Linked DNA regions of Homo sapiens: all the other regions are linked to region 1. Evidence: fine-mapped expression QTL. A gene starts in region 1. Each other region holds a variant in brackets. All regions are shown on one strand. Distances are from middle to middle. Region 1 holds the start of FLYWCH1 (FLYWCH-type zinc finger 1). Region 2 overlaps FLYWCH1 (FLYWCH-type zinc finger 1). Region 3 holds the start of FLYWCH1-AS1 (FLYWCH1 antisense RNA 1). Region 4 overlaps GREP1 (glycine rich extracellular protein 1).

The links.
Region 2: its variant is fine-mapped to the expression of FLYWCH1 in whole blood (TOPMed, PIP above 0.99).
Region 3: its variant is fine-mapped to the expression of FLYWCH1 in coronary artery (GTEx, PIP 0.99). The same link has a PIP of 0.9 or more in spleen.
Region 4: its variant is fine-mapped to the expression of FLYWCH1 in whole blood (TOPMed, PIP above 0.99).

The regions. Positions count from the first base shown.
Region 1 is chr16:2,907,552-2,915,551 of GRCh38, reverse strand. It overlaps FLYWCH1 (FLYWCH-type zinc finger 1), which reads right to left and starts at 3,621. Exons shown (of 10, transcript NM_001308068.2): 1 at 3,398-3,621; 2 at 1,263-1,376. RefSeq lists silencers at 2,988-3,177, 3,151-3,250, 3,281-3,430, 3,451-3,760, 3,811-3,870.
Region 2 is chr16:2,933,326-2,941,325 of GRCh38, reverse strand. FLYWCH1 (FLYWCH-type zinc finger 1) reads right to left here. Exons shown (of 10, transcript NM_001308068.2): 5 at 7,744-8,000; 6 at 7,347-7,610; 7 at 3,942-4,205; 8 at 2,870-3,142; 9 at 1,234-1,294. It overlaps FLYWCH1-AS1 (FLYWCH1 antisense RNA 1), which reads left to right. Exons shown (of 4, transcript XR_007064947.1): 4 at 1,346-2,863. Among named protein-coding and RNA genes, the nearest start is that of FLYWCH1-AS1, 19 kb to the left of the region's middle. RefSeq lists an enhancer at 2,522-3,135. The variant T/G (reference allele first, on the strand shown) is at 3,361.
Region 3 is chr16:2,949,195-2,957,194 of GRCh38, reverse strand. It overlaps FLYWCH1 (FLYWCH-type zinc finger 1), which reads right to left. Exons shown (of 10, transcript NM_001308068.2): 10 at 5,987-8,000. It overlaps FLYWCH1-AS1 (FLYWCH1 antisense RNA 1), which reads left to right and starts at 1,038. Exons shown (of 4, transcript XR_007064947.1): 1 at 1,038-1,325; 2 at 2,669-3,003. RefSeq lists enhancers at 48-967, 968-1,889. The variant G/A (reference allele first, on the strand shown) is at 3,362.
Region 4 is chr16:2,991,648-2,999,647 of GRCh38, reverse strand. It overlaps GREP1 (glycine rich extracellular protein 1), which reads right to left. Exons shown (of 29, transcript NM_001396456.1): 9 at 7,210-7,245; 10 at 6,814-6,843; 11 at 6,685-6,717; 12 at 4,921-4,950; 13 at 4,810-4,842; 14 at 4,686-4,721; 15 at 4,332-4,364; 16 at 3,994-4,029; 17 at 3,877-3,909; 18 at 3,117-3,152; 19 at 2,943-2,975; 20 at 2,563-2,595; 21 at 1,813-1,845; 22 at 1,260-1,292; 2 more. Among named protein-coding and RNA genes, the nearest start is that of GREP1, 7.4 kb to the right of the region's middle. RefSeq lists enhancers at 466-966, 967-1,467, 3,135-4,107, 5,427-5,928. The variant C/T (reference allele first, on the strand shown) is at 3,725.

The sequences.
Region 1 (8,000 bases):
CCCTAGACCAAAACAAAGGAAATACAATTCTTTTATACTCATATAAAGCAAACACATGTTAAAGATTTTACTTACCGTTAGCCAGTAAGGTGGAGCTCAGGAGTTTGAGACCGGCCTGGCCAACATGGTGAAACCCTGTCTCTACTAAAAATACAACAATTAGCTGGGCTTGGTAGCACAGGCCTGTAATCCCAGTTTGCCGCCTGGCCAACACGGTAAAACCCTGTCTCTACTAAAAATACAAAAAAATTAGTCGGTCGTGGTGCATGCCTGTAATCCCAGCTGCTCAGGAGGCTGAGGCAGAACTCACTGAACCTACCGGGGAGATGGAGGTTGCAGTGAGCCAAGATCACACCAATGCACTCCAGCCTAGGCAACAAAATGAGACTGTCTCAGGAAAAAAAAAAAAAATTTCAGTGCATGTAATAAAAATGAGTATATTTTAATACATTTATATTATTTAATAAATTCAATAAATATCTCATTTAATAAAAATTAGAAACTTTTGTTACTCTAGTTTAAGTGCTTTTTTTTTTTACAGTAGATACCCATTGTTTTACAGTAGATACAGGGGCCCTAATGTGTTTCTTTTGTAATGTTCAATCTTCATTCAGTACAAATTTCTTTTTTTTTTTTTTTTTTTGAGACAGAGTCTCACTCTGTCGCCCAGGCTGGAGTGCAGTGGCTCGATCCTGTCTCACTGCAACCTCCGCTGAATCCTTGAACCAGGTTCAAGCGATTCTGCTCCTCAGGCTCCTGAGTAGCTGGGATTACAGGTGTGCGCCACCACGCCCAGCTAAATTTTTTGTATTTTTAGTATAGACAGGGTTTCACCATGTTAGCCAGGCTGGTCTCAAACTCCTGACCTCTGGTGATCTGCCCACCTCAGCCTCCCAAAGTGCTGGGATTACAGACGTGAACCACCATGCCTGGCTGCACTCAGTACAGATTTCTTAAGTGAATGGAGCACAGGCCGGCAGATTTGCATGGAAAGCTCCAAAGTCTCAGTTCATGGTGCATCACTCTCCTGTCCTCTCTCCCCTTCTCCCAGAATTGAGGGTGCGGAGCAATTTGAGTGCAATGCCAGATGGCCTACTGGGACGCTGCGGTCCTGCTGGTGACCACAAGGGCTCAGCGTAGACCTAAGGGTCACATGTTAGCAACTGTCAGGTGTCTCTCAGACACCAAGGGGTCCAAACTCTAATCAGTAAGGCTCGAAAACCAGGCGGCTCTGTCGGCAGCTGATGGAGCCACAGAATTACCTTCACACGTGAGTGAGAAGCGTCACCATCATCCCCCACACCTGGGTCACGGCGCTGGCTTGCTGGGCAGGAGCCCCGGGGGCAAATCCCGTAACTTCTCTGGGCTGGTTTCACCTGTGAAGAAAGTAAAGTGGCAAATGAAATACTGCAGGTGAAATTATTCCATGAACTGTCGACCATTAGACAAGAACAAGGTGTTCAGCATCCAGGTGCAGTAGGGGTCCTGAGTGATAGGAGCGGGAGGAGGGAAGGCCCTCTGTTTAAAAAGCTTCTGAATGGGCCGGTGGCACGGTGGCTCACACCTGTCATCTCAGCAGTTTGGGAGGCTCAGGTGAGAGAATTGTTTGAGCCCAGGAGTTCGAGACCAGCCTAGGCAACATAGTGAGACCTGCCCCTCGCCCCCACCATTTCTACTAAAAAAATTTTTTTTTAAAGCTCCTGGATGACTCCAGTGTCTACCCACCTCCCACCTACCCGCAACTGAACCATGAGCGTTGGAGGTGCACTTGCCTCAGACATGAACCACTATGGTGACATCACAGGCTCAGTGGGTGCACACAGACATTCCTCCTGAAGAGGTTGAAGGTGGCAGAGATGCCCAGATAATTAAAATTTACTCTAAAAATGAACTTCACAATCTCAGCACCGTTGGCATTTTGGGCCGGATGATTCTGCTGTGGGAGGCTGTCCTGTTCAGCGTGGGGTGTTCAGCAGCAACCCCGGTCTCTACCTGCCAGATCCCACTGTCATGCCCTACCACACGTTGTGACCACCAACACTGCAGAACGTTCCCTGGGGTGCAGAATTGCCCAAGAGCCACAGCTCCAAAGCAACTTAGAAATTAGAGCGCACAGAAAGGGAGAGCTTGGCCAATGAGACCCCCCCAGCCCGGTATTCCCCAGTCACCCTCCATCATAATATAAGTTTATTTACTCCTTCCCACAGCCTAATGCATCCTCAAATCTCTCTCCCTCTATGCCTGATATACCCATCTTCCCTCTCCTTCCCACTCCCACCAACTCAGGACATGATCCCTTACCACGACCTCTTTAGCCCAAGCCAAAGCCTCTGAACGATCTTGCCAGCTTTGGCAAGCAGCCACTCCAATTCTCCACATAGGGTGCTGACAGGTCACTCTTCCTAAAGCTTAACTTTCAGCATGTCTCTCCCCAATTAAATCATCTCCATCTCCAGCCTTAGTGCATCATCAGCTGGGCGTCATAAACACTCCGCAATCTAGCCCCAACCTCAGCCTTGTTCCTTCCACACGTCCCGCCAGTAGCACTTGGGAAAGGAACAAGAGAAACATGATATAATCACACGAGAAAATCTAGATCAAGCCCTGGAAATCATATTGGCCCTTGGAAAGCAGAAATATGCAAATAAAAATAAGCCATTTCGTTGGAATTGGAGTTTGCACATGATTATCTGACTATGGGAGTTCAGCTTCCAGTACAAGGAATAAAGGAACAACAGGCAGGGTTTAGAGCGAGGGTTTCAACTACGTCAGACCCGTTATGTGCAGGCTCCATGGGTTAGCAGCAGCCTTTTGGAACGGGGTGGAAGAGAATGGAACGGAATTTAATCCGAACAGATCCAGCTGCGTCATGTGAGCTTAAACAAGCGTCTCCCTTTAAACTTGTGCTTCAGTCATCCAGACCCACAGGCACAGAGTACACGCGTAAAAGGCATTTCTCAGTGTCGGCTGTGGGTCAACAAAGTTCGAAAGCCGTCACCGGAGATCTATAGGGTCAGAAGCGGGAGCGGGGTGCGTCCCGACCCGCAAAAGTGCAAGGTCACTGGGACCGCCCGAGCTGCAACCGTGGGACGGGGCTGATGCTGCGGGTCCAGGAAGGCAGCGCTGGGCGGGGCAGACACCGCCAGGAAACGGCGGACGAGTGCGGGGATCCTTGATGTGGGGGTGTCGGGCTTAGGCCAGGGGACGGGGGGGTGGGGATGGAGGGGCGAGGAGCAAGGAGGGAATCGCGGGAGACCCCACAGGAGGCGGCCTGAGCGCCGGGACGCAGACCCCTCCCCAGCACCCGCAACCCTCGGGACCCCCGGGAGAGCCGGGCTGCGGGCGCGTCCACGCCGGGGACGCGGGACATTCCCCGCCCGCAGGGGCCTGTCCTCACCGACGGCAGCGGGGCCCTCCCTCTCCCGCGACAGCGCCGCGGCGGATCCTTCAGCCTCTGCCGCTGCAGCAGCGAGCGTCGACCCCGCGACCCAGGCCGCCGCCGCCACCCCGACCCGGGCACCAGCTCCCAGCCCCGACCTGCCCCTCGGGAGCGAGCCCCGTGACCGCGCGCGCGACCCCGCCGGGGAGCCGGCCTTGCGGAACGCTCAGGCGCGCTACTTCAGAGCATGCGCAGCAAGACCGCGCGGCCCGTTCCTTAGGTAAACCGCTGCTCCGGGTCTTCCCTGCGCGGCGCCGAGCCGCAGGCCTGGCCTGTCAGCGCATGGGGGCGGGGACGTAACTCACGGAAAAGGCGGGGCCATCCCGAGATTGGACGGCGGCGTCCAGGGGCGGAGCTAGGATGGGGGAGCTGAACAGGACGCTCTTGGCGTAAAGGGGCTGGGGTAGGGGGCGCTTAATTGAGACCCCAGGACGGTCCCCAGTATCTGAGGCTGCCCGCAGGAAACGGAGCGTTTGCTGAGATGCACTCTTGGGCCTGTCAGTTTCCTGACCCCGTGGGAAGGCGATTCTCATGCATCTCATTGACGCCCCCAGTGACCCTACCCCAGAGCGGAACCAGTGTGAGATTCAAATAAACAGCGATAGCAACGGATTATAACCTTGACTACGATATGAGTCCAAACTGAAGGAAATAAGTCAACGGGGGAGAAGGGACAGTTGTTTCTTACATCAGAAAGCCAACAACGACAAAAAAATACCTGGGCCGGGCGCGGTGGCTCACGCCTGTAATCCCAGCACTTTGGGAGGCCGAGGCGGGTGGATCACCTGAGGTCAGGAGTTCGAGAACAGCGTGGCCAACATGGTGAAACCCCGTTTCTACTAAAAATACGAACATTAGTCGGGCGTGGTACTGGGCGCCTGTAATCCCAGCTACTCGGGAGGCTGAGGCAGGAGAATAACTTGAACCCGGGAGGCGGAGGTTGCAGTGAGCCGAGACGGCGCCACTGCACTCCAGCCTGGGCGACAGAGTGAGACTGTGTCTAAAAAAAAAAAAGCAGAAATATTACATAGTATTACAAAGTCTGCATGACGTGTGATGTAACACATTGAATGTAGAAGCAGGTATGAGAGCCAGTAGTCTTCTTTTAAGCCCGCAACAAAGATATTTGCAAAAATGTATAACTATGTCACTCGTCTCACTAAATTTCTTTGGGAAAATATTGTACTTTTTCATAAAACTATGTTAACACAATCAGCTTACTATTTTTTGGTAAGATCTTTATTGAAATATAATTCACATACCATGCATTTCTCCCATTTAAAGTGTACAATTAAATGATATGTAGTATAGTCAGAGAGTTGTGCAAACAGCACCATAGTCAGTTTTAAAACCTTTCATCACTCCAAGAAGAAACCTTTAGCCACCACCCTCCAATTTGCTAATCACCCCAGCCCTAAGTAATATGATCTATTTTCTGTCTTTATAGATTTGCGTATTCTGCATATTTCATATAAATGAAATCATGCAACAAATATGTGGTCTCTTGTGACTGACTTCTTTCGCCTAGCCTTAGCATAGCACTTTCAAAGTTCATCCATGTTGGCCGGGTACAGTGACTCTTGCTTGTAATCCCAGCACTTTGGGAGGCTGAGACAGGAGCATCGTTTGAGCCCAGGAGTTTGAGATCAGCCTAGGCAACATAGTGAGACTCTTTCTCTACAGAAAAAAAGAAAAGAGGAACAAGAGAAAATTAGCTGGATGTGGTGATGCGCTGTAGTCCCAGCTACTCAGGAGGCTGAGGTGGAAGGATCACTTGAGCTTGGGAGCTGGAGGCTGCAGTGAGCTGCGCTCATGCCACTGCACTCCAGGCTGGGCGACAGAGCAAGACCCTGTTCAAAAATAAAATAGTAGCAGAACTTAATTACTTTTTTTTTTTCTTGAGATGGAGTCTTGCTCTGTCGCCCAGGCTGGAGTGCAGTGGCACGACCTCAGCTCACTGCAACCTCCATCTCCCGGGTTCAAGTGATTCTCCTGCCTCAGCCTCCTGAGCAGCTGGGATTGGGATTATTACAGACAGTTGCCACCACGCCCGGCTTTTTTTTTTTTTTTTTCTTTTTTGAGACGGAGTCTCGCTCTGTCGCCCAGGCTGGAGTGCAGTGGCGCCATCTCGGCTCACTGCAAGCTCCGCCTTTCGGGTTCACGCCATTCTCCTGCCTCAGCCTCCCGAGTAGCTGGGACTACAGGCGCCTGCCACTGCGCCCAGCTAATTTTTTGTATTTTTAGTAGAGACGGGGTTTCACCGTGGTCTCGATCTCCTGACCTTGTGATCCGCCCGCCTCGGCCTCCCAAAGTGCTGAGATTACGGGCGTGAGCCACCACGCCCAGCCCCTCCAGCTTTTTTTGAGAGGAGTCTGACTGCGATGCCCAGGCTGGAGTGCAATGGCGCTATCTTGGCTCACTGCAACCTTTGCTTTCCGGTTCAAGAGATTGTCCGCCTCAGCTTCCCCAATAGCTAGGACTACATGCGTGCGCCACCATGCCCGGCTGATTTTTGTATTTTTAGGAGAGACGGGGTTTCACCACGTTGTCCAGGCTGATTTCAAACTCCTGACCTCAGGTGATCTGCCCGACTTGGCCTCCCAAAGTGCTGGGATTACAGGCATGAGCCACCATGCCCGGCCAGGATGCTGTTTTTGTTTCTTCGTTTGTTTTGTTTAGTTTTTGAGACAGAATCTCCCTCAGTCGTCCAGGTTGGAGTGCAGTGGTGAGATCACAGTTCACTGCAGCTTCCATCAAACTCTTGGGTTCCATTGATCCTCTTGCCTCAGCCTCCCAAGTACCTGGCACTACAGGTGCACACCACCGCACCCGGCTAATTTTTTTTTTTTTTTTTTTTTTTTTGTGGAGACGGGGTTTCCCTATCCTGCCCAGGCTGGTCTTACATTCCTAGGCTCAAGTTATTCACCCGCCGCAGCCTCCCAAAGTGCTAACCACCACGCCCTACCTTTGGCACCCTTGTTGACAACCAATTGATCATAAATGTGGTTTGTTTCTGGATTCTTGATTCTATTCCATTGATGTATCTATTACTTATTTATTTATTTAGAAACGGAGTCTTGCTCTTCTTGCCCAGGCTAGAGTGCAATGGTGCGATCTTGGCTCACTGCCATCTCTACCTCCCGGGCTCAAGTGATTCTCCTGCCCCAGGGTCCCAAGTAGCTGGGATTACAGGCACCCACCACCACGTCCGGCTAAATTTTTGTATTTTTAGTAGAGACAGGGTTTCACCATGTTGGCGAGGCTGGTCTCGAACTCCTGACCTCAGGTGATCTGCCCTCTTGACCTCCCAAAGTGCTAGGATTACAGGCATGAACCACTGCGTCCTGCCTGTTATTCCTTTTCAATATTCTTTTGCCTACTCTGGGTCTTTTGAGTTTCCAGTTGTCATCTTTCTTGTCAATCTTTGTGAAAATGAATCACTACCTTTAATTTTACATCGTTGAGACCACCGCAATTTTTTTTTTTTTTTTTTGAGACGGAGTCTTGCTCTGTTGCCCAGGCTGGAGTGCAGTGGTGTGATCTCGGCTCACTGCAATCTCTATCTCCCGGGTTCACGCCATTCTCCTGCCTCAGCCTCCCGAGTAGCTGGGCCTACAGGCGCCCGCCACCAAGTCCGGCTAATTTTTTGTATTTTTAGTAGAGACAGGGTTTCACCGTGTTAGCCAGGTTGGTCTCAATCTCCTGACCTTGTGATCTGCCTGCCTCGGCCTCCCAAAGTTCTGGGATTACAGGCGTGAGCCACCACGCCCGGCCGCAATTATTATTATTATAATTATTTTGAGGGGGACTCTCGCTCTGTTGCCCAGGCTGGAGTGCAATGGTGCGATCTCGGCTCGCTGCAAATCTGCCTCCGGGTTCAAGCGATTCTTCCGCCTTAGGCTCCCGAGTAGCTGGGATTACAGGTGCGCACCACCACCCCGGCTAATTTTTTAATTTTTTAAATTTTTTTTTTTTTTTTTGAGACGGAGTTTCGCTCTTCTTGCCTAGGCTGGAGTGCAATGGCGCGATGTCAGCTCACTGCAACTTCTGCTGTGGGCGGCAAGCCACCCAGGCGCCGAGGCAAGAGACTGAGGACACAAGCTGTTCCAGTATAATAAAATATAAAACAAGAATAGTTATACCAGATATAGATCTTAGACATGATTATATATGAATATCATTAATCATTAGTTTGTAGTAATTACTCTTTATCCCAATATTATAATAATCCCCGCTCTATAATCATAACCTAGGAAAAACCAGGCCATACAGAGATAGTGTAGCAGGACGAGTCGCAGACAAAACTCCTCAGACACCGGATTAAAGAAGGAAGAGGTTTTTTTATTCGGCCGGGAGCGTCAGCAGACTCGTGTCTTAAGAGCCGAGCTCCCTGAAAAAGAAATTCCTAGCCCTTTTAAGGGCTTACAACTCTAAGGGGTCTACGTGAAAAAGTCGTAATAGATCAAGTAAGCATGAGGAACGTGACTGGGGGCTACAAACATCAGTTAACAGAACAAAAAGTTTTATAGTGCTTTCTCATACAATGTCTGGAATTTACAGA
Region 2 (8,000 bases), 26 kb before region 1:
TTATCTTCTTTGGCTCATTGTTTTGTTTGTTTTAAATTACACACAGGGTCATGCTCTGTTGCCCCAACTGGTTTCAAACTCCTGGGCTCAAGTGATCCTCCTGCCTCTGCCTCCCAGAGTGTTGAGATTACAGGCGTGAGCCACCATGCCCAGTCTGACTCACTGGTTTCTTATAAGTGTGTTCTTTAATTTCTACGTATTTCTGAGTTTCCCAAATTTCTCTGTTTTTGATTTGGTTTTTGTTTGTCACCTAGGCTGGAGTGCAGTGGCACAATCTTGGCTCACTGCAACCTCTGCCTCCCGAATAGCTTGGATTACATGCATGTACCACCATGCCTGACTAATTTTTGTATTTTTAGTAGAGATGGGGTTTCACCATGTTGGCCAGGCTGGTCTCGAACTCCTGACCTCAAATGATCTGCCTGCCTTGGCCTCCCAAAGTGCTGGAATTACAAATGATCTGCCTGCCTTGGCCTCCCAAAGTGCTGGAATTACAGGTATGAGCCACTGTATCCAGCCGTGAAAGGACTGAAATGATACAAAGTATGTTCTTTGACCATAGTGGGATGTAATTACAAACCAATAACAAGGCTGGGCACAGTGGCTCTTGCCTGTAATCCCAGCACTCGGGAGACCCGAGACAGGAGGATCATTTGAGGTCAGAAGTTTGAGACTCAGCCTGGCCACCATGATAAAACCCTATCTCTACTGCAAATACAAAAATCAGCTCGGTGTGGTGGTACATGCCTGTAATCCCAGCTACTCAGGGGGCTGAGACAGGAGAATTGCTTGAACCCGGAAGGTAGAGTTTGCAGTGAGCTGAGATCATGCCGCTGTACTCCAGCCTGGGCCACACACAGACTCCATCTCAAAAAATAAAATAATGGACTCTTGCTTTATGGCCTGGCTGTGGTTGAGAAGAACCTGAATTCTGCTGCTGGCAGCTTCCCTCTTGTTCTCTCTCTGTCCCATGGCTGTCATGTGAAGGATGCTCAAGTGGGCCCAAGGAGGGGTCCCTATGGTGAGGAGCAGGGCCTCCAGCCTCACTTGGGCCTTCAGATGACTGCCACCCTGGCTGACAAATTCTCTTCAACCTCAGGAGTCAGAACCACCCAGCCCAACCACTCCCATAATGTTGACCCACAAAAGCTGAGACAGCAAATATTTGTTGTTTTAAGCCCACTACGTTTTGTTGTAATTGGTCATGCACCATTAGATAACAAATACAATTACCCATAAATCTGCTGGCTTTCAGGAGAACACGTCTTGAAGCACAGCTGAACTTGAATCTTTTCTGTGGAAAAATAATTGAAAATATGAATTAATAATTCTTCTCTTGTTGAAGCTGACAGAACCAAGGACACACACCTTGTTAACGACGCCCTCAAGGCTGTGAGGAGAAAGACAACCGGGTGAAGCAACGCTGGGAATTCAACGCATCAATTACCTTCCCAGGTAACAGCAGCTACTTGAGCTCCTAAGAGTTGACCTTCAGCTGCTGTCATGGAAAATAGTGGGGGTCAACTAGACATCAAAGATGAAAGGCCAGGCCTCCAGCACAACTTTCTCTGTAAGCTCGATAGTGGCTTTCTCAAAGAAATCCTTTTCTCAAAAAAATTTCTTGTAAAGACAGGGTCTTGTTCTGTCACCCAGGCTGGACTGCAGTGCATGGCTCACTGCAGCCTCAACCTCCCGGGCTAGAGTGATCCTCCCCTTTTCTGAGGAGCTCAGACCACAAGCGTGCACCACTGTGCCCAGCTGATTTATAAACTTTTTTTTTAGAGACAGGGTTTCACCATGTTGGCCAGGCTGTTTTCTTTCAAGGTTTCACCATGTTGGCCAGGCTGTTTTCTTTTCTTCTCTTTTTTTGAGATGGAGTTTCACTCTTGTTGCCCAGGCTGGAGGGCAGTGGCGCGATCTTGGCTCACTGCAACCTCCGCCTCCCAGGTTCAAGTGATTCTCCTGCCTCCCAAGCAGCTGGGATTACAGCGTAGCTGGGATTACAGGCATGCGTCACCATGTCCAGCTAATTTTGTATTTTTAGTAGAGACGGGGTTTCTCCATGTTGATCAGGATGGTCTCGAACTCCTGACCTCAGGTGATCCGCCTGCCTCAGCCTCCCAAAGTGCTGGGATTACAGGCGTGAGCCACTGTGCCTGGCCAACTTGGATTTGTTACTGTTATACAGGACATGGCCCTTAATATTCACATGAATGACAGTGAGACACACAATGCTTTCTAAAGATTGGTTTTGGCCGGGTGTGGTGGTGCACACCTGTAATCCCAGTTACTCGGGAGGCTGAGGCAGGAGAATCACTTGAACCCAGGAGGCAGAGGTTGCAGTGAGCCAAGATGGCTCCATTGCACTCCAGCCTGGGCAACAAGAGCAAAACTCTGACTCAAGAAAAAAAAAAGGTTGGGCACAGTGACTCACGCCTGTAATCCTAGCACTTTGGGAGGCCAAGACAGGCGGATCACGAGGTCAGAAGATCAAGACCATCCTGGCTAACATGGTGAAACCCCGTCTCTACTAAAAATACAAAAAATTAGCTGGGCTTGGTGGCAGGCACCTGTAGTCCCAGCTACTCGGGAGGCTGAGGCAGGAGAATGGTGTGAACCCGGGAGGCGGAGCTTGCAGTGAGCCGAGATCGCGCCAGTGCACTCCAGCCTGGGCAACAGAGCAAGACTCAGTCTCAAAAAAAAAAAAAAAAAAAAAAACAAAGACTGGTTTCACATTCTGTTTATATGAATAATTTGTGTGTGCACAAAAGCAGTCTGCTCAGTGGGTGCCTGGCCTGGGGCATCAGTTCTGAGCTGGAAGAGATGAGGATGCCCACAGCCCTGCCTCTGCCCCACAGCCTGCCTGTACCTGGGTCCTCCTGCTGGGCCGTGGTGGGGAGCCGCTCCCGTTGCCTCAAGGCCTCCAGGCCTGCCAGGTCAGGCTGATGGCAGTGGCTGCGCATGACCATGATGCGGTGGCCCTGGGTTATGGCGCGGCTGCGGCAGCCCAGCCGAGCCTGGTCCCGGCACATCCAGTACACCTTCTCCCCAGCCGCCTTCTCCTTCCTGTAGAGGAAGGACTCGTGCACCAGGAACCTGCCCCCCAGGGAAGTCCTCAGGAACTCCAGGGGCCGGAGAGGATCTGAAAGGGAAAGTGACACTGTGAGTGGGGCCACAGGGGCCTGGGTGGCAGGGCTGGGGGTCTGATTTGTATCCCCCAGCCAGGCCCCACCAGGAATCTGCGATCCCCTAGCACGCTGCACGGTGGTCCCTGCCCTCCTCCCCTCTGGGCCCTGCAGCCCAGACTCCCACGCTGGCTGGCCCTTTCCAAGGGCTCTGGGGATGACTGGGCACGTGGCC[T/G]GGCAAGCACTGGACCCTGAATGCTCCTGAAGGACTCTCCCAACCCCTCAGACCTCATGCTTGCAGGTGCATCCCCCAGGGCAGGGGCTGAGCCTTTCTGGGCTGGGCACCAGGGCCTCCTGGCTCCCTGTCCACCTACCCCTCAGCCAGCTGGCAGCTGACTTTTAACAAGCTGAACTAAAAGGTCACATGATGTTGGGGTGGCCAGAGAGAACCCCGTGAGACTAGAAGCAGTGTGGGTGGCGTGGGGGTAGACCAAGAGTGTCCAGGATCCACCGTACGGCCCGTCAGCAGATGCCAAGCACTCTCTGTGGCTGCCAATGCCACCCCTGGCCACCATCCTCTTCCTCTAGAGAGCTGAGTGGGTTTCTACCTCCGACAGCCAGTCCCCACTACCCAGAGGACCAGCTGCAGGAGCTCGGAGCCCGCAGATGGAGCCTCCTGCCCCTGGGGAGTTTATGGCCCCGGCTGTCAGACCACCATGCACAACACACAACACCCCACGGGCAGCCTCCAGCCAGCGTGTGGGGCACAGGTCCTGGGAGACCAGGCAGACCCAGCCCAGCACCCTCCACACGCACCTGGGCTGTCCCACTGCGCCAGGTTGGGGAAGTGCTCCCGCTGCCGCAGGGCCTCCAGGCCGCCCAGGTCCGGTGGGTGGCAGTGCCTGCGCATGACCATGACCCGCCGGCCCTGGGTGATGGCGCGGCTGCGGCAGCCCATGCGGGCCTGGTCCCGGCAGGTCCAATACACCTTCTCCCCGGCCGCCTTCTCCCGCCGGTAGAGGAAGGACTCGTACACCAGGAAGCTGCCCCCCAGGGGCGTCTTCAGGAACTCGGGGCCTCCTGTTGAGAAATGGGAGGGGAGGAGCAGCGGACACCAGCTCTCAGAGCCCAGATCAGCATGGCCCCGAGATGAGACCTCCCACAACGCCCACACCTCCTCCTCACAGTGAGGTGGCCCCGGAGCCCAGGACACAGATGCCACCATCCCCCCAACTCTGCTGGGGCTCCAGCTGCTGGGGTCCGCCTCCTGAGGCTGGGGACTGGTCAGGTGAGGCCCCTGCAGGTGGCGGCCAAGCGTCCCACCTTGCCATGCCTTCAGGGAGGCAGTGTCTGCTGCGTCACTCGTCCGTCCCCAGCACCCGCCCAGGCTTGCATGCAGGGTGCGCCGTGCCTGGTTGGTCAGAGGAATGACCCGGGGCCCTCTGGGGACAAAGCTGCTCAGGAGCCGGATGGGGCTGAGAGGGGTGGCCCCCGAGAGCCGCGCAGGTAGAGGTGTGACCCCAGGACTCTGAGGAAGAGGCAGGGAGCAGCGTCCACTGTCCTGGATGTGGTGAGAGGGAGGACCTGGCGGGTGGCTGTGCCTTGCCCAGAGGATACCCTTTCCTCCGTGCAGGCTCAGGGGCCACAGAGGTGGGGAGGTGGCCTGGGGCATCGTGGACACATCGGGTGGCAGTGGAAGCAGGGGATGGGGGTGGGTAGCAAGCCCTAGAGGAGAGGCCAGCGGGGGGCGGGAGGGTGTCTGGCTGTGGAACTACCTTCAAGAGGGATGGAGAGGGCTGGGCAGGGGCCATGTGGAGCAGGGAGGCTCGGGAGGCAGGAGGACCCTGAGGGGCACAGCAGCACAGGAGCCTGGGGACCACGAGACAGAAGAGGTCAGGACGAAGGTGGGGACGCCAGGCCACGGGAGGGGGTGGTGTGACCATGGGGCACGCTTTATCCCCTTCCACACGGATGAAAATATCCAGCAAGGGGCTGCGCACGGTGGCTCACGCCTGTAATCCCAGCACTTTGGGAGGCCGAGGCAGGCGGATCACGAGGTCAGGAGTTCAAGACCAGCCTGGCCAACATGGTGAAACCCCATCTCTACTAAAAAAATACAAAAAATTAGCTGGGCGTGGTGGTGTGCACCTGTAATCCCAGCTACTCAGAAGGCTGAGACAGGAAAATCACTTGAACCTGGGAGACAGAGGTTGCAGTGAGCCAAGACCACGCCACTACACTCCAGCCTGGGCGACAAGAGTGAAACTGTCTCAAAAAAAAAAAAAAGACGCCCTCATCTGGGAGGATCAACATCTGATTAACAGGAGCAACAGAAAGGGATGATGATGGGGAAGTTAACAAAGAGCACGAGAGGATGACCCCACGATGAAGGACACAAGCCCAAAGCCTAAAAAGGCCCCCAGCACAGCCAGGTACAGCTGGGAGGGAGCAAAGACCCTAAAACCTCAAGCAAAGCTGACGGCACACAGAGGATCAGTCACGCAAAAGCGGCAGGGACGTTCAAGGGCAGGCTCTGCACCTGTGACACCACGGAGGCCAGGCTGCCCCTCCGGCGGAGGGAAGCGACAGACATTTCAGACATGAAAGGCCTCAACGTGCTACCTCCCGGGACCGGCCCAGGAAACGACGGGAGGCAGGACTTCTCCAAACCACAAAATTATAAAGAAAACCAAGAAAGAGAAAGGCAGGCCCAGAAGCAGGGAGTCAGCACAGTGAACCCCGAGGGACAGCTGGGCCCGGCCTCTGCCCCCAGGCCAGGCTGCACTGGGAGGTTCCAGCAACCTGCGGTTGTGGATGATCGGATCCAGGTGGGGTCGACCTGGACACACAAAAGCAGGCAAACAAACGCAGCAGCTGCCACCCCACAGAGAAGACAGAGCTGTGTTAGGAAGATGGGACCACAGAGCACCCCCCAGTCAGCCGCGAGCAGGTTTCTAGGCTAAAGTGAAACCAAACGTGGCCGGGTATGGTGGCTCACGCCTGTAATCCCAGCACTTTGGGAGGCCGAGGCAGGCAGATCACCTGAGGTTGGGAGTTTGAGACCAGCCTGGCCAACATGGTAAAACTCTGTCTCTGCTAAATATACAAAAATAGCTGGGCGAGGTGGCAGGCGCCTGTAATCCCAGCTACTCAGGAGGCTGAGGCAGGAGAATTGCTTGAACCCGGGAGGCGGAGGTTGCAGTGAGCCAAGATCACGCCACTGCACACCAGCCTGGGTGATAAAGCAAGACTCCGTCTCAAAGAAAAAAAAAAAAAAAAAAGCCTGTGCAAGAAGTGCACTGAGTAGCTGACAAGGAAATGGAAAAACCAATTAATAGTAGTGGAGGCACATTTTAGGAAATAGGGCAGCCAAGACCCTAAGAAACAATTGCTTAGTTACTTGTGGGGTCAGGAGCGGGGGTGAGGACGAGGCGGGGACCTCGCAGCACTGTCTCTCTGGAGATGGAACAAAAAGAGAAAGACAATCACAGCTCTCAAGTCCGAGAGAACTTTAGGGCCATGAGGCAACTCACATGACCCAAAAGCTGCAGGATCCGGAAGAGCCACTGGAAAGAGAGGCCAGCGCCTTGGGGCGTGAAGGAAGAGCAGGTGAGTGGAGGAGGCCACGATGAAATGGCTCCTCAGCCAGACGCTATGGGGACATTTACGCAACTGTGGTTGTGAAGTCAAAACACCAGGCACTGCGGGGGGCCGACCGTGTGGATAAAGATGGAGACAGCCGGGACCCTCCTCGGGCCAGCGTTTCAGGACATTATGGGTGTCTATGGAACAGCGGGCCGAGAGGAGAAACCGGCTGCATGTAAGTAAATATCACCTCCTCAATCCTTAACCACTCAGACGTTAAGACAGCCTTCCACCATAGCAACGAGACTGACCATGTGCAGTCAACACCCTCTATTACTACTATGAACTCTTAAGACAAACGGAGGAAGAGGAGGGCAGGGAGGTCTATCCCTGCTGCTGCTACTGTGGGGCAGGTCAGGCTGGAAGGGGGAGGCTGGGCTGAGCAGGAAGGTGAGACCCATTGAAAGCGGCATCAGGGGGGCCAAGGAGTAGGAGGCCAGGGCCATAGTTCCTTCTAGGATGTTCAAAGAAGGGAAGAGGACGTTTGCCAGGGGGAGCCGCAGCATGGAGAGGGAAAGGCAGTGTGGGGCTCCTGCCTGCTTCCTGGGGCCCAGCTCCCAGCCCACCCCCAGGTACCTGGGCTCCCCCGCTGCGCCGTGTTGGGGCGTTTCTCCCGCTGCCTCAGGGCCTCCAGGCCTCCCAGGTCGGGCGGGTGGCAGTGACCACGCATGACAGTCACCCGTCGGCCCTGGGTGATGGCGCGGCTGCGGCAGCCCATGCGGGCCTGGTCCCGGCAGGTCCAATACACCTTCTCCCCAGCCGCCTTCTCCCGCCGGTAGAGGAAGGACTCGTACACCAGGAAGCTGCCCCCCAGGGGCGTCTTCAGGAACTCAGGGCCTCCTGGGGAGGTTCAAGAGGCAGTCAGGGGAGGGGACAGGGGCTGGGTAGGCCTGATCGCACCCCCTTCCCTCCCTGGACCTCTGGAGGCAAGAGTCAAGGCAGGGCCGGTGAGCCCCAAAGGAAGGCAGCTCACCCGGGTCTGCGTCCATGTCCTGGTGCTCGTCTGGGGCCTCGGGCTGGGTTGGCAGCTCCTGGTCTTCGACCTTTGCTCGCTTTCTGGGCCGAGGCCTGGTGAGAGTCAGGGGACCCGGACCCCTGCGGTAGAGCAAACTATCCACGCCTCGGAGCAGCGTGTCCACTTGGCTCCCAGGGCCGTCCTGCCCAGCCTGCAGCGTCTCCACGGCCTTCTCCTGCTGCCGCCGGGCTTCCAGGCCCTCCATATCGGGCTGG
Region 3 (8,000 bases), 42 kb before region 1:
AGACGTGGTGACACACGCCTGTAATCCCATCTACTTAAGAGGCTGAGGCAAAAGAATCCCTTGACCCTGGGAGGCGGAGGTTTCAGTGAGCCAAGATCGCGCCACTGCACTCCAGGCTGGGTGAGGGAGCAGGGGCAAAAAAAAAAAAGAATGCTCTGGAAGCTCTCAGAACACTTCAAGGTGCTGCCTGGGCTGGCTCATGCCTCCCTCCGTGACCTCACCCCCACCACATTCCCCACACCCCAGCATGATCTCCTCCTGGTTTTCCAGGTCCGGTCCTTTCTCCGCTCTGGGCTGCTGTACTGCGGTTCCCTCAGCCTGATGTGCTTCTCCCTACATCTTCACTTAATAAATTTGTGCTGCGGAGCTCAGAGCTGCCTCCTCTGAGAAGCATTCCTTGATCTCTACCCCTCCAGCCTGCTGTCTGCCCCGCCCGCCATTGCCTCCTTAGCTGCCTGGTTCCTCTGCGCCTCCCCCACCACCTGAGGAATGGGTGACAGTGGGACACAGCAGGGGGCGAGATGACCAAAGCCAGGCTTATTTCGGTGGGATGGGGTCACTTGCTGCCGGCTTGTCCTAGATGCTCTGGTCACCAGCGTGGGCAGAGCCAGGGAGGGGCCCTGATTTGGAAACTCAGAGTTCAACTCAGCCCTTGAGCTCCTGGGTGGATTTGAAGGGGTTTTCCCATGGGGATGCTGGATGACTGGCTGTCACCCCAGTGGCTTGGCCTGCAGGACCCGCCCTTCTCAGATGAGGACCCCAAGGCTGGCAGGGCCCGGGAGTGCCCAGGGCTGGCTGGCTTCATTTGGGCCCCAGGCCAGTCGGCTCGGAATGGCTGCTGGGGCGCTAGCGGCCTTGGCCTCCAAAATGTCTGCAAGAGTTGCTGGAAGCTGCCCTGCCCTGGCTGGGCTGGGGCTCTTTCTGAATGCAGGAGTCTGTCTGTCTGTCTGTCTGCCTGTCTGTCCGAACAGCTCACTGTGTTGTTGCACAGGGGCAGGAAGGGGCCCACACGGGCAGCTCCAGGGGCTGGGGGCGGGTGAGCCAAGCCCTTTCTTCCTGTTCCTCCTGCTCAGGTTGAGGCTTCACTTTCCATGGAGAGAGGCCCCTTCCTGCACCCTGGGGAGGGAGGCTGTCCACAGGTAGGGCCAGGCCCGGTCAGTGGTGCATGGCCTGAGTAGGGTGGGGGGGCACGGGACCCCTGGAAGGTGAGAGACCAAGAGCCTTAGCTGGTCTGGGGGCTGGTGTGGGGGCGAGCAGAGCCAGTCCCGCCCTTCCCAGCAAGTGAGGACGACCATGACCTGGTTCCTGGAAGGCGGAACAAGGAGGTGAGCCACCTGCTCGACCCCGCCCACCCCCTCCTCCACGGGCCCCTCCCCCAGCACCATGGCAGATGCGGGGCTTCGCATGTCCCGGGGACCCTCATTGCCCTCAGAGTCCTGGCCACCCTCACCCTCCTGACTTTGACCTGCTGCTGTCTAAAAAGCAGTGCCCACCCCCCGGACTTTCAGCGGCTCACCCCGCTCCCCGGCTCCCCCTGCCTCAGGCCTGCAGGCCCGGTGAGGGCTCACTCGCTGGCAGGGCTGGGGGTGTCCTGTCCCCAGGAAGGCCGCAGCTGGTCTCCACTCAGTCTGAATGAGGGGTGACTGGAAGCCCCCCTCAGGGGGGCCTAGTCCCTCCTAGCTGCCTACCCCGCCATCCCCACCTCGAGGGCTTGACGGGCACTAGAAGGGCCCTCAGCTTTGGATAGAAGGAGGACCCCCACCCCACATTGCTTCACAGAAAGGAGGAGTATTTGCCTCGAACATGACAAGTGCTCAGAACAACTGTTCCTGTTGCCGGAGTGACAGGGAATCCAGGAGGGGAGGGCGGTGTAGACACAGGTGGGGCTCCTGCACTGGCCCCACAGGTGTCAGGCGTGGAGGAGGGAGGGACTGGGCAGAAGCGGCCCCTCCCCGGCCTGGGGCTTGGGATCTTTCCGGGAGACACCGAGGGAGACAGTAGAGGCCGCTCCTCCCTGCTGCGCGGCACCCCCACCCCCCCGCAGGGGTGGATGGGCACCTCGGAGGCAAGCCAGGGGCTGGTGGGGGCCGGAACAGGTGAGGAGAGGGCTGGGCAGCACCGAGCAGGTGGGGGCCTCTGGGTCCTGGCATCCCATGCTGTCCTCGGGCCTCACGGGGGACACGGCTTGGTCCCTGGCCTGCCCCCCGGGGCCTTCCCACGACCCCCGCCTCCCCAGCAGATCTGTGAGGTCCAGGCAGGCCTCTTCTCAGGACCCCAGGAAGGGCCATTTGGGCACCCCACACAGCCCCCGAGGCTTCCTGCCTTAGACTGGGCAGTACGGGGGAGGGTGGGGCCCACAGGGACTTGTCTGGAACCACATGGCTGGCAGGGCACAGCCCAGTGGGGTCCCTCCGAGCCAAGGCACTTCCACAGGAGGGCCCCCAACACCGCCTCCCAGGTCAGGGAGGGAGTTTGGTGATTAGTGAGGGGTGGGCTGGGAGCTGTGGCCGGCGGGATTCTGAGGTGGCCCCAGGATCCCCCCTCGGTGTCTCTGTGCTCCATGACCCCCTCCCTGGAGTATGGGCCACCTCTCCTGTGATTGTTCTGTGTGGCACCGGTGGAAGGACTTTTTACTTTTTTTCTTTCTACTTCTCCCGTGGTGTTGCAGTGGCGGGATTTCTGCAGGTGTGACCGGGGTTTCTAATCAGGTGACTTGGCGTTCATCAGAAGGGAGGTTGATCTGGCCGAGCCTGGCTAGCTCAGGTGCACCCTTTAAGAGGCTGGAAGCCACAGAGCCGCCCCCTCCTGATGCCAAAGAAGCATATGGCCATCGGCTCCACAGCTGCGAGAAAGATTATGCACACAACGACATGCGCTCAGGAGGGGACCTCGCGCCTCGGTTGAGATCCCAGCCCTGGCTGACACCTTGAGTGCAGCCTGTGAGACCCTGAGCAGAGGTTCAGCAGTCCCCTCCCCGGACTCCTGCCACACAGAAGCCATGAGGTAAGTGGGTGTTGTTTCGAGATGATAAATTACTAGTGATTTGTTCTGCAGCAATTGTGTGCTGGAGCGCAGAGGGGCTGGCAGGATGGGGGGTGGTGAGGGGCGAGGCTCATTAGGCAGGTTGTGGACCCCCAAAGGCTGCAGTGATAGCCCGCTCAGGTCCAACACCCTCCTCGTCAGTGGGGGCCTGGTAGGCCCTGTGCACAAAATGGCCCCGGCTACGGTTAAGTGCCTCCAGCTGGGCCCATTCCTCTGGGGCTTCAGTATGGGGAAGGGGGTGATTGGCCTCCTTCCTCGGCAGCCGGATGTGTTCTGTTGGCCACGCAGGCCGGGAAGCAGAGCAGGTGGCTGGAGGGCC[G/A]GTGGAACGGGTATCTGGAGGCAACCGTGGCTGGTGCTAGCAGCCTGAGGCCAGGGACTCTCATACCCTCTGTCTCCTGAGAACCCCCTTGGGTACGTCTGGCTTCTGGTCCTTGAACCAGGTAGTCGCACCTGATGGGAAAAACAGGGCGAGTACACCTGGGGCAGGTGTTATGCGCTTCGATTTCCACTTTTAGAGCCAGGAGCGGTGGCTCACACCTGTAATCCCACCATTTTGGGAGGCTGAGGCGGTGGATCTTTTGAGCTCAGGAGTTTGAAACCAGCCAGGGCAACATACTCTGTCTCCACAAAAAATTAAAAAATTAGGCCATGGCTCATACCTGTTATCCCAGCACTTTGTGAGGTCGAGGCGGGCGGATCACCTGAGGTCAGGAGTTCGAGACCAGCCTGACCAACATGGTGAAACCCTGTCTCTATAAAAAAAAAAAAAAAAAAAAAAAAAAAAAAAACTACAAAATTAGCCGGGGGTGGTGGCGGCACATGCCTGTAATCCCATCTACTTGGAAGGCTGAGGCAGGAGAATCGCTTGAACCTGGGAGGTGGAGGTTGCAGTGAGCCGAGATCACACCACCACACTCTAGCCTGGGCAGCAAGAGTGAAACTCTGCTTCAAAAAAAAAAAAAAAAAAAATTAAAAAACTAGCTGGGTGTGCTGGTGCACACCTGTGGTCCCAGCTATTTGGGAAGCTGAGGTGGGAGGATTGCTTGAGCTCAGGAGTTAAAGGCTGCAGTGAGCCAAGGTGGCATCACTGCACTCCAGCCTGGGTGACAGAGTGAGACTGTTTCAAAAAGGAGGCCGGGGAAAGTGTGCCTGGGCAGGTGTGTGAGCTGGCGTGTGCGCTGAGCTCATCCTGTTCTCGCTGAGCTGTGATGGGGCCGGGTTTGGCAGAGGGACAATGCAGGCGGGAGACAGGCTTGGAGACTGCTGTGCACGCCTGCCAGTGGCTGTGCCCTGCGTGAGTGCCGGGCTGAGGGATGACAGGCTTGGAGACTGCTGTGGTCACACCTGCCAGTGGGCGTGCCCTGCATGTGTGAGGGGCTGAGGGATGACAGGCTTGGAGACTGATGTGGCCACACCTGCCAGTGGCAGTGCCCTGCGTGAGTGAGGGGCTGAGGGATGGGAATGTTTATGAATACGGGGACCCAGGAAAGGGTCTCCTTTGCTGTCCTAGTGCCTTCCCCGGATTCTCCAGATCCTCTCAGCATTACACTCTAGAGAAAGGGGCCCCATCAGCTCCTTAGCACACGAGGGAAGGAGACAGACAGAGGGGCCGGGCATGGTGGCTCACACCTGTCATCCCAGCACTTTGGGAGGTTGAGGGGGGCAGTTTGCTTGAGCCCAGGAGTTGAAGACTAGCCTGACCAAGATTTTGAAACCCTTCGTCTACTAAAAGTTAAAAAATTAGCTGGGTGTGGTAGTACACACCTGTAATCCCAGCTATTCGGTAGGCTGAGGCAAGATAATTGCTTGAACCCAGGAAGTGGAGGTTGCAGTGAGCCACGATCACACCACTCAACTCCAACTTGGGCAGCAGAGTGAGACTGCCTCAAAAAAAATAAAACTAAAAAAAATAAAGGAAAACAGGCAGAGGAGAGGAAATGCTAATGGGGAAGCGGCTGCCTTTCAGGGTGATGATAATGTTCTGGAATGAGATAGTTGTGATGGATGCACAACCCTAGGAACTTACTAAAAGCCATTGATGGTCCGGGCTCTATGGCTCACACCTGTTATCCCAGCACTTTGGGAGGCCAAGGCGGGTGGATTACGAGGTCAATAGATCAAGACCATCCTGGCCGACACAGTGAAACCCGGTCTCTACTAAGAATACAAAAATTAGCTGGACATGGTGGCGTGCGCCTGTAGTCCCAGCTACTCGGGAGGCTGAGGCAGGTGAATCGCTTGAACCAGGGAGGTGGAGGTTGCAGTGAGCTGAGATCACGCCATCGCGTTCCAGCCTGGGCGACACAGCGAGACTCCATCTTAAAAAATAAATAAATAAATAAAAGACAAAGGCAGGTGGCAGGCCCTGATGACTGATGGGACACAGGACAGGCAGGGCAGCGAGGATGACTGTCTCACTCATTTGTGGTCTCCTCCCTCAGACAAGAGGATGGAGGACAATCCCCTCTGCCACCTGTGCTGCATGGTGCTTATGGGAGATGCCGGGCAGGGCCCAGGAGGCAGCTGGACATGACGTCCAGGTCTCATTTGCAGAAGGGAGGGCTGACAAACCGTGAACCCCAAAAGTGGCAGAGCAGAAGAGGGCTGAGGTCCAGCCCCCAAATCACCAACCCCCACTCCAAGGTTGGGCTGGATCAAGGCGCTCACGAAGGGGGCTGGGAGGGGAAGCCAGAAGAGCTGGCACTGGAGGGGACCTGGGAGGGCGGTCAGTGCCCACGGCCAGCTCAGAGACACACCTGCTGGCCTGAGCGACAGGGGTCCTGTGCCACTCTGTCTTGGCAGAGGAGGTGGGACAGGAGGCTAGGCTGGGACCACTGGGGAATGGGGCCCACCTTATGACTGTGGGTCAGGTCCCGGGGGGCCAGGGGCTCCCGGAACTGGCCACTGCCCCACCCCCATTTTCAAACTTAGAGTTCTTAGTTGATACGTTTCTGATGCCTTGGGGATTTATTTTAAATTTCATGAGATGTTGTTGGCACTGTCATGTCAAAGGGCACGGACACACACCATGTGGTGCAAATGTCATACAGCAGGGTTTGTGGGCGAAGCACCAGCAGAGGCAGGGCTGGAAGCAGGAGCTGCCCCGCTGAGCTGCTGCCGGGCTGCACGCTCCGCGGCCAGCGTTCACCCGCACGCTTTAACTCTGTGACAGTGACTGGGCAGGCGACATCTGGTGGCCCTGGAACTTTGCAAGGGGAAGGCTCTGAAGCTCACTTAGTGGCTGTCAGGCCCTTGTCATGGCTGAGTGGCCACCAGGGTGCGGGTTGGTGGCCATGAAGCCACCCAAGGCAACAGCATCATCTAAATTCACGTCCATTGGAGAATCTCAGCCCAGCAACGCGAGCTGCCGTCTGTCTTCTAAGGTCAAAGCAGGCGTGAGGCAGAGGAAGAGTGGGCCAGTCCCGGTCAATGACGCAAATATCCAAAAGGGAAGAGAAGCCGATATTCTTCCTCTGATTCGCCTCATACCCGCTTAGGGGTGCCCAGAGCAGGGCATGGCATCATGTGACCATGGCGGGAAGATGCTGGCCGTGGAGGCCCCATCACAGAGGCAAGGAGCCCACAGGTGGAGGGCGCAGGCTTGGCAGGTAGCAGAGGCTGCAGTGACTCAGGCTGCTGTGACCCGGGCGTTTCTCTCGTATCTTGGGCATGTGGAGAGCTTCCCCTTCTGCAGGGGGCCTGATCAGAGGTCCAGCTGGTGGCGGCATGAACTGGACCATCTTTCAGCAAGTACCTTCCTCGGGCATGGCTGCCTCCTGTGGGCGTACACATTTGGACCACACAGTGGGAGTCGGGATTGGAGTACTGGGTCTGTAGCCTTGGCCATGAGTCCAGCTGGGGGCAGTTAGGTCAGCCTCGGGGCAGGATGCTTCAGGGCCGAGAACAGTGCCCAAAGCGCAGCCACTGTGTTGTGTGTCCTCTGCCATAGGCAAAGGATGGACGGGTGGGCAAGTCTGCCCTTGGCCCAGGGGTGCCACTTGCCCAGGCTTATGCAGATGAGTCTAGGCGTAACGCAGGCTAATGGCGAGAACAGAGCATCCTGCCTCTTCCAGCAACACGACGCAAATGTCCTGCCATATCCGGGCCTGGGAGAGGCCACAGGCTGCAGCTGGCCCCCCAGCAGCCCTTCCAGAGGCCCCAACCCCAGGTGTCTCCGTCCACTCTTGGTCCAGGTTACGTCTGGGCCAGGTGACTGTAACAGCCCAGGCATGGGGAGGGGTCTCCCCCTGGGCACTGGCATGGAGATGTGACGGAGTGTGGTTTCACGGCGGCCAACTGTTGCTGCAAGAGGGATGTGAACAAGTACCAGCTCCACACGGTGAGATGGAAAATAGGATTTATTGGGGGAACCGTACAAGCAGAGGAGAAGCAGGGGTGCCCAGGCTGTCACAGCCTTGCAGTGCATGGTGGGTTCCGTGGCCAACTTGCCAGGGGACAGGCCTGTTGCTGGCACTCCCCCCACAATTACAGGGTGGGAGTGAAGGACCTCGCGGCTGCGGACAGGTCCTTGTTAGTAAGGAGGAGGCTCTGCAGTCCCGGTGGGGTCATCTTGCCTCTCCGGACTGCTCCCTCTGACTGGTGAAGCCACACTCTGTGAAGCTGTCTGACAGAAGGGGACACGCCTTTGCTGCCCAGGATGGACCTGGGCCACCCAGGATGCCGCTGGCCTCAGCCAGGGCACGTGTGCCCAGCGCTGGCTCCTGCTGACCCCTGGACTGGCTCCCATCTCGGGAATGACGCCTGCCGTGGGAATCGTGGAGAGGGGGTTTAATTTAACTTGGAAGGAGCACAGAAAGGAAAGTGTGGAGTGCGGAGCGAGGCCTCTGGTTTGGCCAGCTCCGGTTGCTGGGGATGGCCACACCCTGGCAGCAGGCGGCCAGAGACCAGGAAGGCCTACCCAGCACCTGTCCAGAAGAGATTGGTGTGGGTTGACCTGG
Region 4 (8,000 bases), 84 kb before region 1:
AAACCCCGACTCTACAAAAATACAAAGATTAGCCAGGTATGGTGGTGCGTGCCTGTAATGCCAACTACTTGGGAGGCGTATTTTGCAGTGAGCCAAAATTGCACCACTGCATTCCAGCCTGGGCGACAGAGCGAGACTGTCTCAAAAAAAAAAAAAAAAAAAAAAAAAGAGCAAGAGGGTAGACTCGGGGAGGGACTTCCTGGCCTTCGGGTGCCTGAATAGCTTAGGCAGCCTAGGGAAAAAGGGTGATGGAGGGGTGACCCTGATCTGGGGTGGAGACAGAGGATAGACCTAGCTGAGAGTTTGTCCCTCTGGGATGTGGGGCCTGGGGGCAGACAGACTCACACCTGCTTTCTGAGGTTTCAGTCCCCACTGGATGGCTGGCATTGGTGCTAGGAGGAAGGTTAGGGGCAGGAGTGAGCCCAGCCGAGGGCTTGAGAGACTGCAGATGCCATGGGGCAGGGATGGAAAGGACTCCCATACTGGGGACCACATGGGGTCCCAGGGCCAGAGTTCAGGCTTCTCCTCAGCAGATCACTGTGTGACAAGTCACTGCCCTCTCTGAGCCTTGGCATCCGAGGACAGAGTGGGATATGGCAGCCAGGCCCTGACCCTCATAGGGCCAGGTGCTTCCCAGTGCCCCCTAGGCACCCCCACTCCACACTGACCTGGTAACTTGCCATTCTGCACTGCGGAAGGGGGCTGGGATTTCAGGCCCCAGCCACCCTCTTTGTCCGAAGGGACCCCTGGAGTGGGAAGCCTGGGGAGGAGCATCGGAGCGACCCTCGCATTGCAGGGACCTACGATGGGAAGGAAGGGAGGGGTGGGGCTATGCTCCAGGCCAGTCCTCACCGACGCCACCCAGGAGGCCTTGGCCTGGCCAAGCCACCGGCCTGTAGTGGCTTCTAGGGCAGACCCAGCACCTTAGGGGGACATTAGCCAGGCTGGAAAAAGCCCAGCTCCCTTGGTCCACACTCTCCTGGGGGGACCTGGGGATCCAGGCAGGGGATAGAGGGATGTAGGGATCTGGCAGGGATGGGGCTCCTGATGGAGGCCCCTCCGTCTTCCAGCAGCCTCCCTCTCCCTTCCTCCTGGGCCCCCACCCCTGGTCCCAGTGGCCTCACCTGGCCAGGGCCCATTTTCATGGCCGTGTCCTGGAGAGGGAAAGCAGAGATGAGTGTGGCAACACTGGGGGCAGAGGCTAGAAGGGCTGAGAGGCAGAAGGAGGTGTGGGGCAGAGCCAGGGGTCCCCCACTCACCTGACTTCTGAGGCTTCAAGGTCCCTCGCAGGCCTGGGGAGAGACAGAAAGAGGCCAGTTCAGACATCAGCCCACCCGAGGAGTGTAGTGAACCCCTCTCTCCCCTGCTGATCCCCCTAGCCCCGTCTTTTCACCTGGCAGGAGCCCCAGCCAGGTCCCTGGTGTGTATCCTGGGAGGGAGAGCAGGGCATGAGGGCGGGGTTGGAGTGGGGGACCTTGGAGAAGGCAGGAAGAGGGGCAGAGAGCAACTCGGCTTTGGAGGTTTCTGGCTCTCTCCCAGGCCAGAGACCCATGGAGAATAATGGACAGGCCCACCCCACCCCACCCCTTCCCCCACTGAGACCCAACTCTGTCCGTTGGAGCCTGTCCTCCTTCCCCTCTGCTCCAGGTCCCACCCACCTCCCTCACCTGGCTGGGCTCCTTCCCACAGGAAGGCTCCAGCTCCAGCCCGTTCTTGCACCATGGGGAGACAGGGTACAGCTTGGGAGGGGAAAAGGGTGGAGGGGTAGGCAGTTTCTGCAGGTAGGGAGAGTGAGGAGTGGGAAGGGCTTACCTGGCTTCTGAGGTTTCATGCCCTCTCCAGCACCTGGAGAGATGCGAGTAGGTGAGGGACCCATGCCCACTCCTCACTGAGGGGTCTCTTCCAGACCTGGCATCTGTCCCCCACCTGGTGCCCATGCCAACCTCCCCTTCCTGGTCCATGACCAGTGGGAACTGCAGGGTCTGTGGGGGCGGCATGGGGAGAGGTTGGGGTACAGAAGGGGGCTGGAGCCTGGCCCCCCTTTCCTCCCAATTTAGGAACTGGAGCTCCCAGCACCTCCCTCCCCCTTGTGCCGCCTCCTCTCCAGACTCTACCCCGTCTAAGGCTGCAGGAGCCCCCAAGAAAACCCTCAGTACAGGGTCAGGGGAGAGCCAGGCCCCCACCTCTTTCCTCCTTTCTGCACTCCCAGCAACTCCAGCCCCCCAGTACCTGCTCTGTAGCCATTCTGGGCTAAGGGGCCTGTGGGGAGGGAGGGGTGAGCAGGGGGTTTGGGATTCTAGCTAAGGAGAGGGCGAAGGGCCTTTGGATCCCCTTTCAGAGCCAAGTCAGAAACCAGGGATCCTGGCGCCACCTCTCCTCCCTCATTTTGGTGTCCACCTGCTCTGGAGGCCTGGGAGGGAGACAGGGACATCAGCCCGACACCCCCTCACTGGCTCGGCTCCCAGCCCCCTCCTGAATGCCGATGGAGCTGAGGTGGGGTATGAATGAGGGAGGGAGCTCAGGGTTTGGGGGAGGCAGAGGGACAGGCGGGGCAGGGCTCACCTGGCTTCTGGGCCTTCATAACCCCCAAATAGCCTGGTGAAGAGAAAGGGAGCAAGTGAGGGACCCAAGGCCTCCGCTCTGGACCTCCTGGAACCCCAGCCCTGCCCCTTCCTGGTCCATAGCCGTTTGGAGCTCCCAGGCCTGTGGGGCAAAAAAGGGAACGTGGTAAGGCTGAGCCACTGGGGGACAGGGAGGCAGGGGCCAGGAAGGGGGCTCTCAGTCTCTCCCCAACCTCCTCTCCCCTCGGTCCTCGGTGCTCCTACAGACCTCCCCTCACTCATGAGGCAGGGGTCACCCCTCCCCTGGGAGTCCCACGCAGACCCAGCTAGAACACCAGGATCTAGGGGAGGTGGGGCCACAGACACAGGCAGTCCCCTCACCTGGCATCTGAGGCTTCATCCCCGCTCCTAGGCCTGGGAGAGACAGAGAGGCTGACATCAACTCCAGCCAGTGCTGCTGATCCCCAGACCCCAGCTCTCTGTCCCTGTGGCCTCAGCTTCTCTCTTCCCGTCCCACCTCCCGACCCCTCGCGAGCCAGGCCCAGCTGCCCTCACCTGGCTGGACTCCCGGTCCATTTCCATGGCCATATTCTAGGGGGAGGGACGGGGAGGGTGTGAGACGGCGGCATTCGGAGGGGGTGTCAGGAGGACGCAGCCCTAGAGACAGGGCGGGGGCCCAGGGCCCTGGGAGGGGGCCTGGCTCCCCCTCCCAGGCCTACAGAGAGACACAGAGGCAGAGCCACATCCGGCCAGCCAGTGGCACTTAATTCCCCAGGATTCAGACCCACACTCTGCCCTCCCGGCCCCCTGGCCCGATCTTTGTCTTCCCCCTTCCCTCTAAGAAGCCTGGGCTCAGCCCGGTGCGGTGGCTCACGCCTGTCATCCCAGCACTTTGGGAAGCCAAGGCAGGTGGATCATCTGAGGTCAGGAGTTCGAGACCAGCCTGAGCAACATGGTGAAATCCTGTCTCTACCAAAAATACAAAAATTAGCCAGGTGCGGTGGTGGGTGTCTGTAATCCCAGCTACTTGGGAGGCAGAGGTAGGAGAATTGTTTGAACCCAGGAGGTGGAGGTTGCAGTGAACCGAGATTGCGCCACTGCACTCCAGCCTGGGCGACAGAGCAAGACTCCATCTCAAAAAAAAAAAGCCTGGGCTCCTACCC[C/T]AGGTGTCCTCACCTGGCTGGGTTCCAGCCCCAGGGAAGGCCCCTGCTCTCAGCCTTTTCCCATATCCTGGAGAGGGAGGGAGCATGAGTAGAGTGCTTATGGCTTCAGGGGTTCGTGCATAGAGAGGCAGACCAGGGCGGGCGGGGCTCACCTGGCTTCAGAGGCTTCACATTCCCTCCAAGGCCTGGAGGAGATATAGGGGGGCTGGTGAGTGACTCAGGGGCCCCACCCACATTCTCCCCCAGCCCCTCCCCACCCCTGCTCCTACCTGCTCCAAATCCAAATCGGTTCTGGGCTGTCAAGACTATGGGGAGAGGAGGGTGGGGTGGGGATTTGGGGTTTGGTTGAGGTGGAGGTAAGGGAATCCTGGAGGCTTCCTCCCAGCAGCCCTTCAGTTATTCACCAGCTCAGCCCCCCATGAGACTGGGAAGGGAGGCAGGGAGAGGACGCCCCAGGGGTAGAACCCCAGACCCCATCTGTCTCACCTGGCTGAGCACTCAGCCCATTCCCATTCCCTAATCCTGGGGGACAGATGGAGGTGGGGGTGAGAGGGGGAAGGGGGCTCTGAACACTGGGGAGACAGAAGCCCGGGAGAGCCAGGCTTACCTGGCTCCTGTGCCTTCATGTCCCCTCTAAAGCCTTTGGGAAAATGGGGAGCAGATGAGGTACCTAGGAGCCCCCAACTCAGATCCACCCCAGAACCCCAGCATCTGGACCCCAGCTCCTCCCATCCCCCTCAGGACCTGCTCCAGGGCCATTCTGAGGTGGGGGGCTTGTCGGGGTGGGAGGGCTGAGCTAAGCTGGGGACACAGCGCCTATGGTTCCCCTTCAGGGCCAAGCCAGAAGCCAAGGATCTTGGAGACGCCCCGTCACCCCTCTCCATCATTCACCAATCCCGCCCCTGGGAGGAAGAGGCCGCCCAGATGCAGACCCTGGAACCCCAGACTGTACCCCCTTCACCTGGCTGGGCTCCCAGCCCAATTCTGTACTGGAATCCTGGGGGAATAGATCAAGGCGGGGTATGAATGAGGGGAGGGAGCTCAGGTTTTGGGGAGGCAGAGGGACAGGCCGGGGCAGGGCTCACCTGGCTTCTGGGGTTTGACGGCCCCCACATAGCCTGGTGGAGAGACAGGGAGCAGGTGAGGAACCTGGGGCCCCAGCTCTGGGCCTCCCCAAACCCCAGCCCCGCCCCTACCTGGTCTATAGCCATTTTGAGTGGTGGGGCCTGTGGAGGAGAGAAAGGGTTAAGGCCCTCCGGAGCCCTGGATGCCATCTCCAGCCACCTCGGGCAGGGGTGTCCCCACCCCCAACTTCAACGAGCCAGAAAGGCAGGTTCCTTTCCTCAGCAGCCTCCAACTGTCAAGCTCCAGCTCCTGCCACATCTTGGGTCTGAGCTCTTTTTTTTATTTTCTTGAGATGGAGTCTCGCTCTTGTTGCCCAGGCTGGAGAGCAATGGCGTGATCTTGGTTCACTGCAACCTCCGCCTCCCGGGTTCAAGCAATTCTCCTGCCTCAGTCTCCTGAGGAGCTGGGATTACAGGTGCCCGCCACCACGCCTGGCTAATTTTTAGCATTTTTAGTAGAGACGGAGTTTCACCATGTTGGCCAGGCTGGTTTTGAACTCCTGACCTCAAGTGATCCGCCCGCCTAGGCCTCCCAAAGTGCTGGGATTACAGGCGTGAGCCACTGCGCCTGGCCAGGTCTGAGATCTTGCTGGAGCCTGTACCTTCTTTGTTCAAAACTCTCCTTTTGGTTCAGTTTCTCAGAGGGTTGGGCCACTCTCTCCTCCCTGGCCTCCACTGCCTCCTAAGAACTCCCAGAGCCCAGCTCTGGGGCAGCCTCAGCCCATACTGTATGCCCCAGCGTGGCCCTGGTTGGGGAGGGCCTGTCCCCAGCACCTGGTTGGCTCAGAACAGGCATGGTCCACGGATTACTTTGGTTGTTGTTTGTTTGTTTGTTTGTTTTTGAGACGGAGTCTTGCTTTGTCACCCAGGCTGGAGTGCAGTGGCACGATCGGCTCACTGCAAGCTCCGCCTCCTGGGTTCACGCCAGTCTCCTGCCTCAGCCTCCCGAGTAGCTGGGATTACAGGTGCCCACTACCACGCCCGACTGATTTTTTTGTATTTTCAGTAGAGACGGCGTTTCACTGTGTTAGCCGGGATGGTCTTGATCTCCTGACCTTGTGATCCACCCGCCTCAGCCTCCCAAAGTGCTGGGATTACAGGCGTGAGCCACTGAGCCCGGCCTGTCTGTTTTTTAAACAGGATCTCTCTCTGTCACCCAGGCTGGAGTACAGTGGCAAGATCTCCACTCACTACTACCTCGACTTCCTGGGCTCAAGTGATCCTCACCTCTCAGCCTCCAGAGTAGCTGGGACTACAGGCACGTGCCACCACAACTGGCTAGGTTTTTTTTTTTTGTAGATGGATTGCTTGAGCCCAAGATTTCAAGACCAGCTTGGGAATGTTGCCCAGGCTGGTCTTGAACTCCTGGGCTCAATTGATCCACCTAACTCTGCCTCCCGAACTGTTGGGATTACAGGTGTTAGCCACTGCTCCAGGCCTGGATTGGTTTGTCGAATGAGGTTTGTTGTGTGAGACCAAGTTGGGAGGCTAGAGATTGGGGCTCGCCTGCTCTCTGAGCCTTTAGTCCCCCTCCCAGGCCTGGGAAGAGAAGGGGAAGGACTTCCTGTGAGTCCACCCATCCCTTCCTCTCTGCTCAGGACCAGGGCCAGGCCCCTACATCAGTAACCCCCAACCCCTAAGACCTCCATGCTCCCAGAACTCCAGGGCCTTACCTGCCTGGGTTCCAGCTCCCAGGAAGGCCCCGACTCCCCACCCATTCCTATTCCCAAATCCCAGGGGACAGAGCCAAAGAGAATGGGGAGATCAGGGACTCTAGGGAAGCAGCGGCAGATGCATAGGAAATGGGCAGGGAGACAGGGACAGGGAGTGGCTCACCTGGCTTCTGGGGTTTTCCACCCCCTCCAAAGCCTGGGGGGAAGATGAGAGGGTGAGGGATCCTTTCCTCTGGGCCTGTGCCCAGAATCTCAGCCCCAGGCTCCCCGCTTCCGTCCCCACCCTCTTTACCTGGTCCAAAGCCATTTTGAGCGGCAGGACCTGTTTGAGGGCAGACACAGGAGTGTGGAAGGTGGTGCAGTGGGGATGAGCTGGGGCCTGGAGCCCTGCCCTCTCCCTTTCTGTCTCGCGTGACCCCTGCCCTCTGCCTTTCTGTCTTGTGTGAACTCCCTCCCAGGCCTGACTGCAGTCAAAGTTGGATTTGGTTCTTGGCCCGGGAGTCCAGACCGTGGCCACCCTTGACCAGCTTGGGTGTCCTCCATGGCCAGCCGAGGCCTGGCTTGGGACGGGTGCTCAGGGGAGATTGGGTGAATGAATGAACCCCCAAGAGCCCATCTGTTGGGACCCAGAGTGTGGCCCTGGGCCCCTGACCTCTCCCCCAGCCACCCCAGCCCCTTCGGCCCCGACCTGGCTGGGTTCCCGGTCCGTTTCCATTGTTGTATCCTGGGAGGAGAAGCAGTGTGTGAGGGGTGGATCTGGGGAGGGCTTGAGGGTGGGACAAGGCCATAGATGCAGGGGAAACAGTCAAGATAGGGGAGAGGAGAGCAGGGGCTCACGGACCCCACCCATCCCCTGTCCTCCCCCAGAAATAAACTTTCTGCCTTCTGGACCTCTGATATCCCCTGGTTCTTCCCTGTGTCTTCTAGAATCCCAGTGTGGTCCAGCTGCCCTCACCTGGCTGGGCTCCAGCTCCTAGGAAGGCCCCAGCTCCCATCCCATTCCCATCACCAGATCTTGGGAGACCGAGTAGAAGGAGGAAGCAGAGGCAGGGCCGGATGTGTGTATGTGGGGAGTGGAGGACAGGGACACAGGAAAGGGCAGGCACACCTGTCTTCAGAGGTTTCACCCCCCGCCCCATGCCAGGAATAGAGAGAGAGACCAGGTAAAGGAGGCTGCAGCTCCCTGGAGCCCCCAGACCCAAGCCCAGGCCCTCCGCAACACCCTACCCTCCCTGACCTGGTTTTGGGCCTGTGGGGTGAGGGAGGCAGAGGCTGGACCTAGGCCATGTGGAGTGCGGGTCCGTGGTCCAAACACCACCCAGGGCCACTGTGCTCCACACCCTGACAGTTCACTAAGGGCGCATGCCCAGGAAGCAGCTCAGAGGCCTCCACAGGAGTCCCCACCCACAGGAATGGCATTGGCAGGCCACAGAGGGACGAGTGCCTGGGGAGGGTAACACAGACCGAGAGGGGGACAGA